Homo sapiens: one gene and its partner. The protein of the gene in region 1 interacts with the protein of each later gene in a pairwise test. Each region holds a gene or a part of one and is shown on either strand. Other genes may lie near its edges.

What was found.
Region 2: the proteins of ZNF207 (region 1) and POLR1B interact in a two-hybrid assay, tested with the Homo sapiens proteins (one large-scale study listed by BioGRID and IntAct).

The regions. Positions count from the first base shown.
Region 1 is NC_000017.11:32,359,993-32,363,813, reverse strand, and holds part of ZNF207 (BUB3-interacting and GLEBS motif-containing protein ZNF207), read right to left. Parts: intron 3,217-3,821; coding exon 3,049-3,216; intron 2,923-3,048; coding exon 2,847-2,922; intron 2,347-2,846; coding exon 2,299-2,346; intron 901-2,298; coding exon 830-900; intron 1-829. UniProt on the Homo sapiens protein: Kinetochore- and microtubule-binding protein that plays a key role in spindle assembly. ZNF207/BuGZ is mainly composed of disordered low-complexity regions and undergoes phase transition or coacervation to form temperature-dependent liquid droplets.
Region 2 is NC_000002.12:112,552,144-112,555,964, forward strand, and holds part of POLR1B (DNA-directed RNA polymerase I subunit RPA2), read left to right. Parts: intron 1-501; coding exon 502-673; intron 674-1,395; exon of another isoform or gene 1,396-1,547; intron 1,548-2,380; exon of another isoform or gene 2,381-2,436; intron 2,437-3,821. UniProt on the Homo sapiens protein: Catalytic core component of RNA polymerase I (Pol I), a DNA-dependent RNA polymerase which synthesizes ribosomal RNA precursors using the four ribonucleoside triphosphates as substrates.

The DNA of each region.
Region 1 (3,821 bases):
CACGCCTGTAATCCCAGCACTTCGGGAGGCCAAGGCAGGCGGATAACCTGAGGTCAGGAGTTTGAGACCAGCTGGCCGACATGGCGAAACCCCATCTCTACTAAAAATACAAAAATGAGCCAGGCGTGGTAGTGGGCGCCTGTACTCCCAGCTACTCGGGAGGCTGAGGCAGGAGAATCACTTGAACCCCGGAAGCAGAGGTTGCAGTGAGCCGAGATCATGCTCCAGCCTGGGTGACAGAGCGAGATTCCATCTCAAAAAAAAAAAAAAAAAAAAAAAAAAAAGTTTGTTGGATTTCTCTATTACTTGTCTAAAACATTCCTAACAAATACAAGCGCTCTAAGTATGTGAGATTCAGCACATAGGCCGTGACTCACTTTGGCTGCTTTGAAACCTATCATCTATTTCAAACTTCAAGAAAGGGCCAGCCAGGCGTGGTGGCTCACACCTGTAATCCCAGCACTTTGGGAGGCCAAGGTGGGTGGATCACCTGAGGTCAGAAGTTCAAGACCAACCTGGTCAACATGGTAAAACCCCGTCTCTACTAAATACACAAAAATTAGCCAGGTGTGGTAGCAGGCGCCTGTAATCCCAGCTACTCAGGAGGCTGAGGCAGAAGAATCGCCTGAACCTGTGAGGCAGAGGTTGCAGTGAGCCGAGATATCTACCAAAATACATTTTTTAAAAAAGGGTCCATATAACACTTCTCACAGGAACTTGCAACTTTCAAAAATTTTTAAATTTCATTATACTAATGCCCACAGACGTCTAAAAAAACTTAGAAATAAAGCCTGTACATCATATTAAAATGAAATTATCTAACATATACCTGGTGGCATTCCAGGCATCAGAGGTGGTATTCCTGGTCCAGGTGGCATCATTCCACCCATTGGCATCATTCTATTAGAAAGCAAATTTCAAGAAACAGTAAGTTAATGAACAGCATAAACCATTAAAAAATATTCTGGCTAAAGCCTGAAACAACACTAGATAGAAGACTTGAATCTGACCTCTAATACTGAAATGAATCAAAGCTGAAAGAACACACAACACACTGTAACAATCCTATCAAAATAAATTGTCTAAAACCCAGCAAACTCTTTGGTTTACCAATAAAAAAAAAATGTTGACAAAACATTTAAAGTCATTTGAGAACAAATATACTCTCAATATGTACAAGAGGCCTCATCTAAAATATGTGTAATGGGAAAGCAAATTCACCACTTTTTCCACTTGGAAAATATCCACAGAGTATTAAAGAAAAAGAAGAAATCTCTATTTCAGAGTTGTGTTGGATTTTGAAAAGAAAAAGATTGAATGAATGTACCCTGTGAAATGAGATTTTTTATTTGGCTAGGTGCAGCAGCTCATGCCTATAATCCCAGAAGTTTTGAGAGGCCAAGGCTCAAGGACTGCTTGAACTCAGGAGTTCAAACCAGGCTGGGCAAAAAGTGAGACCATAACTTTTTAAAAAAGCAAAAATTTTAAACATTAGCTGGGTGCAGTAGTGTGCGCCTGTAGTCCCAGATACTCAGAGGGCTGAGGTGGGAGGATCACTTGAGCCCAGGAGGTCAAGGCTGCAGTAAGCTGTGACTGCGCCACTGCACTGTAGTCTGGGCGACAGAGTAAGAGACCCTGTGTCAAATACATACATATACACACACACACACACACACACACACTTTTTTTTTTTAGAGAAAGGAAATACTACCACCAAAATTAAAGACACTCAAAAGTAAAACCAGATGGCCTATTTACAATAACTACCTACCACTAAACCATGACTTAAAAACACAACCCACTTATTTTTTCCCCTAAAAGAGCTCACCTTCAAATATCAGTGTCCAATTCACTTAAAAAATGATAAATTGGTCAATTTTCTTTCAAATTTTTTAAATTTTTGTGGGTAAATTCAGTTCTTGATTTAAAATTTTTATCAGAAGATTAACTTCTATTAATAGATTAGAAAATTCCATTACATCCTATAATAATAAAGCATGTAATTTCATAGAATATAGTCTTTCTTAAATACTAACCCTTATTAACAGGTCCCATTACTTTCAATAGTTTGGAGAAAATCACTGCACATTTGAAGTATGTTTATATGGGTCTATTACCGTTTCCTAAAAGATGTTTTATTTTCCTTCTTTAAGAGACCTGTGTTAATTAGCTTGCAAGTTTTAGTGAGGAAGGTTAGAAAATTTCTGAAGTCAACTGAATAGATACCATTAAACACACACATAAAAAAATGACAGTATGATTATACCTCCTGAATTACATTATGAATGAGATGCTTACATGTTTTCACCGCAAAATGACTGGGTGTATTTTCTCTGATGATGCAATCTGTGAAAATGTATGACAAAATCAAAATCTAACTGTGATTTTCAAAATACAGTGGGAAAGTGTATTGTATACCTCTCACATCCAACAATATTTAAGTAAAAGTGATGGGCACAAGCACCTCATATTCATTTTAGTTTTGATGCTTTGACAAATAAATCATTTACAGAGTTTCTCTGCTTCTTGTCACAACTACAAAGTGTCACAGATAATTCTGAATCTCAGAAACGCAAATCTATAAATAACCAACTACTTTAATCACAGTAAATGCAATTGAAGTAGATGGTTGCTTACATATACCCTAAAACCCAAAAATCTATTACTCAGAGGCAAATTTATATTCCTTAAATTTACTGGTTGATCCCTTTATTAGACAAGATATATAGAGCCCATACCTTCTAGAAGCAAAAAATGGAAAGTAACATTTCATTCATATAACATCCAAATTGAAAAAGATCATTACTAGGCACAAGCCTACAGGGCAATTAAAAGAATTTTCTTACCCAGGTGGCATGCCTGGCATAACTGGTGGCATTCCTGGCATCAGAGGAGGAACACCTGGCATTAATGGAGGTATGCCTACAAGCAAGAATTTCAATCAAAATAATAACAAATATTAAAGAGTTAGAGGGAAGAAAGTAATACTTCGATACAATATCAATAATGTCCTAAAAATGTTAGATTTTAAGCAATCCTATGTGCTACCTGGAGGCATTCCTGGTGCTCCTGGTACTGGTGGCAGTCCTGGCTGTGCCATTGGAGGAATATAACCTTGCTGAGGTTGAACAGGCTGTGGCTGAAATGAAGTTGAGGCTGCAGAGTCGTCATCATCATATTCATCAGAATCATCTTGTTGCTTCTTTTTTTGACTTTCTGTTAAAAAAAAAAAATTATTTCCATAGAGTAAAAACTAAGAAAGTTTATTTACAACATTCAATATTTAAAAATACATATATGGGTAAAATTACTTCATGAGATTTTTCTTCCCCAAAAATTCAATTAATACTGCTCTATGTTCTTCAAATGTGTTTTCGCCCTATATTAAACAAGATTAACGTTCTTTCCCTGTCCTATGAAAGGTAAAATGATTATCCTAAATCAGTATTTTTTCTTTTAAATTTTTAGTAAAGTCTTGCTCTGCGATGCAGGCTGTACAGCAGTGGCACGACTGCAGCTCACTGCACTCTCAAACTCCTGGGCTGAAGCGATCCTCCCGCCACAGTCTCCCAAGTAGCTGGGACTGCAGACACATGCCACCACACTGGGCTTTTTTTTTTTTTTTTTGGGGGGGGGGTAAAGGTGAGGTCTTGAACTTTTGGCCTCAAGTGATCCTACGGCCTCAGCTACCTAAAGCACTGAAATTATAGGAGTCCTTCATTTTCATATGCCTTAACACTTGCTAATTCTATTTGGAATTCAATTATGAATAATAATATAAGAAAATGGAATGATCCAAATGGTACTGCATATATACAAAT
Region 2 (3,821 bases), on another chromosome or scaffold:
CCTTTGTTTTTGCGGCCCTCCTCACTTGTATTTTTTTAGTAGTCGTGTTTTATTTTATAGTACTTTTTAACTTTTATTTTGAAATAATTTCAGACTTCCAGAATAATGTCCAAATAGTACATTGGATTCTAATTGTGAACATTTCATTCATTTACATTTACTTTTTTACTTTCTGTGTACACAGATGTACATTTTTCTTTCTGTACAATCCCTGAAAGTTGCAGGGATTGTATCACTTTATTTCTCCAAAGCAAGGACTTTGTCTTATATAACCACTGTATAATTACTAAAGAAGCCAGCTCCATACTGGTGCTGTCCAGTGCATAGCCACCAGTCACATGATAAGCACTTCAAATGTGGCCAGTGTAGCTCAAAAACTGAATGCTTAATTTTATTTAATTAAAGTTAAGTAAGCATGAGTTGGGGATCTTGGTTAATAGAATATTAAGTAGTATTACCAACTGAATTGTTTTAAGCTTTTTTTTTTTTCTGTTTTCACAGCCAGTGCATCTGTATCCACTTGAAATCCAATACTGAAAAGTTTTATATGCTTTGTCTCATGACGCGAAAGCTCTTTGCTTTAGCCAAAGGAGAGTGCATGGAGGACAATCCTGATAGTTTGGTGAACCAGGAAGTCCTCACACCGGGTCAGCTCTTCCTTATGTTCCTGAAGGTAAATGCATGCTATGTCCACCCTTGGCCAGTGGTACCACTTGTGGAATGGCGTGACTTTGTCCAGCAGCACTGTTTTCTGCATGTTTATAGTTTCTAGTTTTGGCATTTTGTGTGGTCTCTTTTTTGTTTGTTCATTTAGCAGTAAGGGGATCAGAAATCCTGGCTTACACCAGGTTTGGAAATTTGCTTAATATTTTTATGTAAAGATCACATCAAATCTTGGTCACAGTGTTAATGATAAAAAGCAAATGGCCTGTATTTATACATATGGTTGATCCTCATTATTTGTAGATTCTGTATTTGTGAATTCACTCACTGGCTAAAATTTATTTGTAACCCTAATGTCAGTGCTCAGTGCTTTCATGATTATTCACATACATGAGCAGAGCAGTGAAGAATTTGGGTCTCCTGAGGCAAATGTTACAGCTGAGGCGGGGCAGGGCGATGCTCTGCTTTCCGGTTTCAGCTCATACTATAAAGAGGGTCCTTTTTGAGGTGCATTTGGTGCTATGTTTTTCACATTGTCGTGCTTCTTATTGGTGACTTTTTTGTTTTTTTTTGAGACAGGGTCTCAGCCTCAACCTCCCAGGCTCAAGCAATCCTCCCACCTCAGCCTCCTGAGCAGCTGGGACTATAGACATTCACCACCACACCCGGCTAATTTTTAATTTTTTTTGTAGAAACAGGGTCCCACTATGTTGTACAGGCTGGTCTCAAACTCCTGGGCTCATGTGATCCTCCTGTTTCAGCCTCCCAAAGTGATAGGATTGGAGACATGAGCCACTGAGCCTGGCCAGTTTTTGCTGTTTATAATGGTCCCCAAGCATAGCACTGAAGCGCTGTCTAGTGTTCAGTGTTAATGAATTAACAAGGTATGTTAAATAAGGTGCCTTTCAACAAAAGCTGACATTAAACAAGATTGTATATTGATCCGTTGACCAGAATGTTATGACCAGAGACTTGCAGGAACCCAGCCCTGTATTTTTCCCCAGGAGTAGTGGTTTTATATGTGTTAATTCAGTGTTCATTAGAACATAGCTACTGTGAGTAGTGAAATTTGACTGTAGATGTATATAGAGAGAAAGTTGGCATGGCACAAAAATGATTTCATAAGAATATTGATTCAGTGGCATTTTATATTTTGCATCTTATCCTCAAAAAGATGTAATCTAAGAGTTAATATATTTTTAGTAGAGGTGGGGTTTCACCATTTCAGCCAGGCTGGTCTCGAACTCCTGACCTCAGGTGATCCACCTGCCTCAGCCTCCCAAAGTGCTGGGATTACAGGTGTGAGCCACTGTGCCTGGCTTCTAATTTATTTTATTTTATTTTGAGACAGAGTCTTGCTCTGTCTCCCAGGCTGGAGTGCAGTGCTACGATCTCAGCTCACTGCAACCTCCACCTCCCGGGTTCAAACAATTCTCCTGCCTCAGCCTCCCGGGTATCTAGGATTACAGGCGCGTGCCACCATGCCCGGCGAATTTTTTTATTTTTAGTAGAGACGGGATTTCACCATGTTGGCCAGGCTGGTCTCGAACTCCTGACCTCAAGTGAGCCACCCACCTTGGCCTCCCAAAGTGCTAGGATTACAGGCGTGAGCTACCACACCCGGCCTTCTAATTTCTTATCTAGGTAGTAATTCTTATTTACATTCTTCCCGAAAGGTAATAATCTTTGTTTCTGTTTGCTCTGTCCATAAAATTAGATTGAAAAATTTCAGCAGCCTACAATTTTCCTGACAAAAATTGAAAGCAGGCAGCGTAAGTTTTCTCTTATTAATTTAATGTTATTAAATTAACCTTTCAAGTAAAGGTTAATTTACATTTCCCATCTACTTAAAGTGAAGCATGGTGGGCTCATTGTATTCCACACTTATAAATGTGTCTTTATTCCACATCAATTCCTAATTAGGAAAAAAAAGAAAAGAAAAAGAAATGAGACCAGGAGTACAGTGGCTCATGCCTGTAATCCCAGCACTTTGGGAGGCTGAGGCAGAAGGGTAACTTGAGCCCAAGGAGTTTGAGACCAGCCTGGACAGCACAGAGAGATCGCTACAGAAATAATAAAAACTATTAGCAGTGGCTGGGTGTGGTGGCTCACGCCTATAATCCCAGCACTTTGAGATGCCAAGGTGGGTGGATCTTCTGATCTCAGGAGTTCAAGACTAGCCTGGGCAACATTGCAAAACCCTGTCTCTACAAAAAATATAAAAATTAGCTGGGCATGCTGGCATGCTGCAGCAATTCCAGCTACTCAGGAGGCTGAGGTAGGAGAGTTGCATGAGCCTGGGAGACGGAGGTTACAGTGAGTTGAGATCACGCCACTGCACTCCAGCCTGGGCGACAGAGCAAGACCCTGTCTCCAAAAAAAACCTGTTAGCTGGGCATGGTGGTACATGACTGTGGTCCCAGCCACTTGGGAGGCTGAGGTGGGATCCCTGAGCCCAGGAGGTCAAGGCTGCAATAAGGGGTGATTTTGCCACTGCACTCTAGCCTGGGCAAAAGAGCAAGACCTTATCTCAAAAAGAAAAAAGAAAAAAACACCTGGTGCGGTGGCTCACACCTGTAATCCCAGCACTTTGGGAGGCCGGGGTGGGAGGATCACTTGAGCCCAGGAGTTTGAGATCAATCTGGGCAAACAGCCCAGAGACAAAACTTCGTCTCTACAAATAATTTTAAAAAAATTTAGCCAGGCCTGGTGGGCCACACCTGTGGTCCCAGCTACTCAGCAGGCTGAGGTAAGAGGATTGCCTGAGCCCAGGCGGCGGAGGATGCAGTGTGCTGTGATCACGCCAGTGCACTCCAGCCTAAGTGACAGAGCAAGACCCTGTCTCAACAGAAAAAAGAAATGAGTCTTCTGTAGCAAGGCGTTACTAAGGTGACCTGTGTCAGCAACAAGAGAAACCAAGGGAAAATTGGGGCTTTTTCAGAGAATTCATTGCCGAGTATCTGATTTCCTTACCAGCTACGTTAAAGCTTTTAAACCTTTGAGTTTGGAGCATAAAAACAATCTTCAGAAGATACATAACCATGACATAAGATGAATTATAGACTGTTAAAAATTCACATTGTATTTACATTGAAATAAGCAATATAAAATTGAAAAATAGCAACCATATTTTCTGTATTATTGTAGATTAACCATAA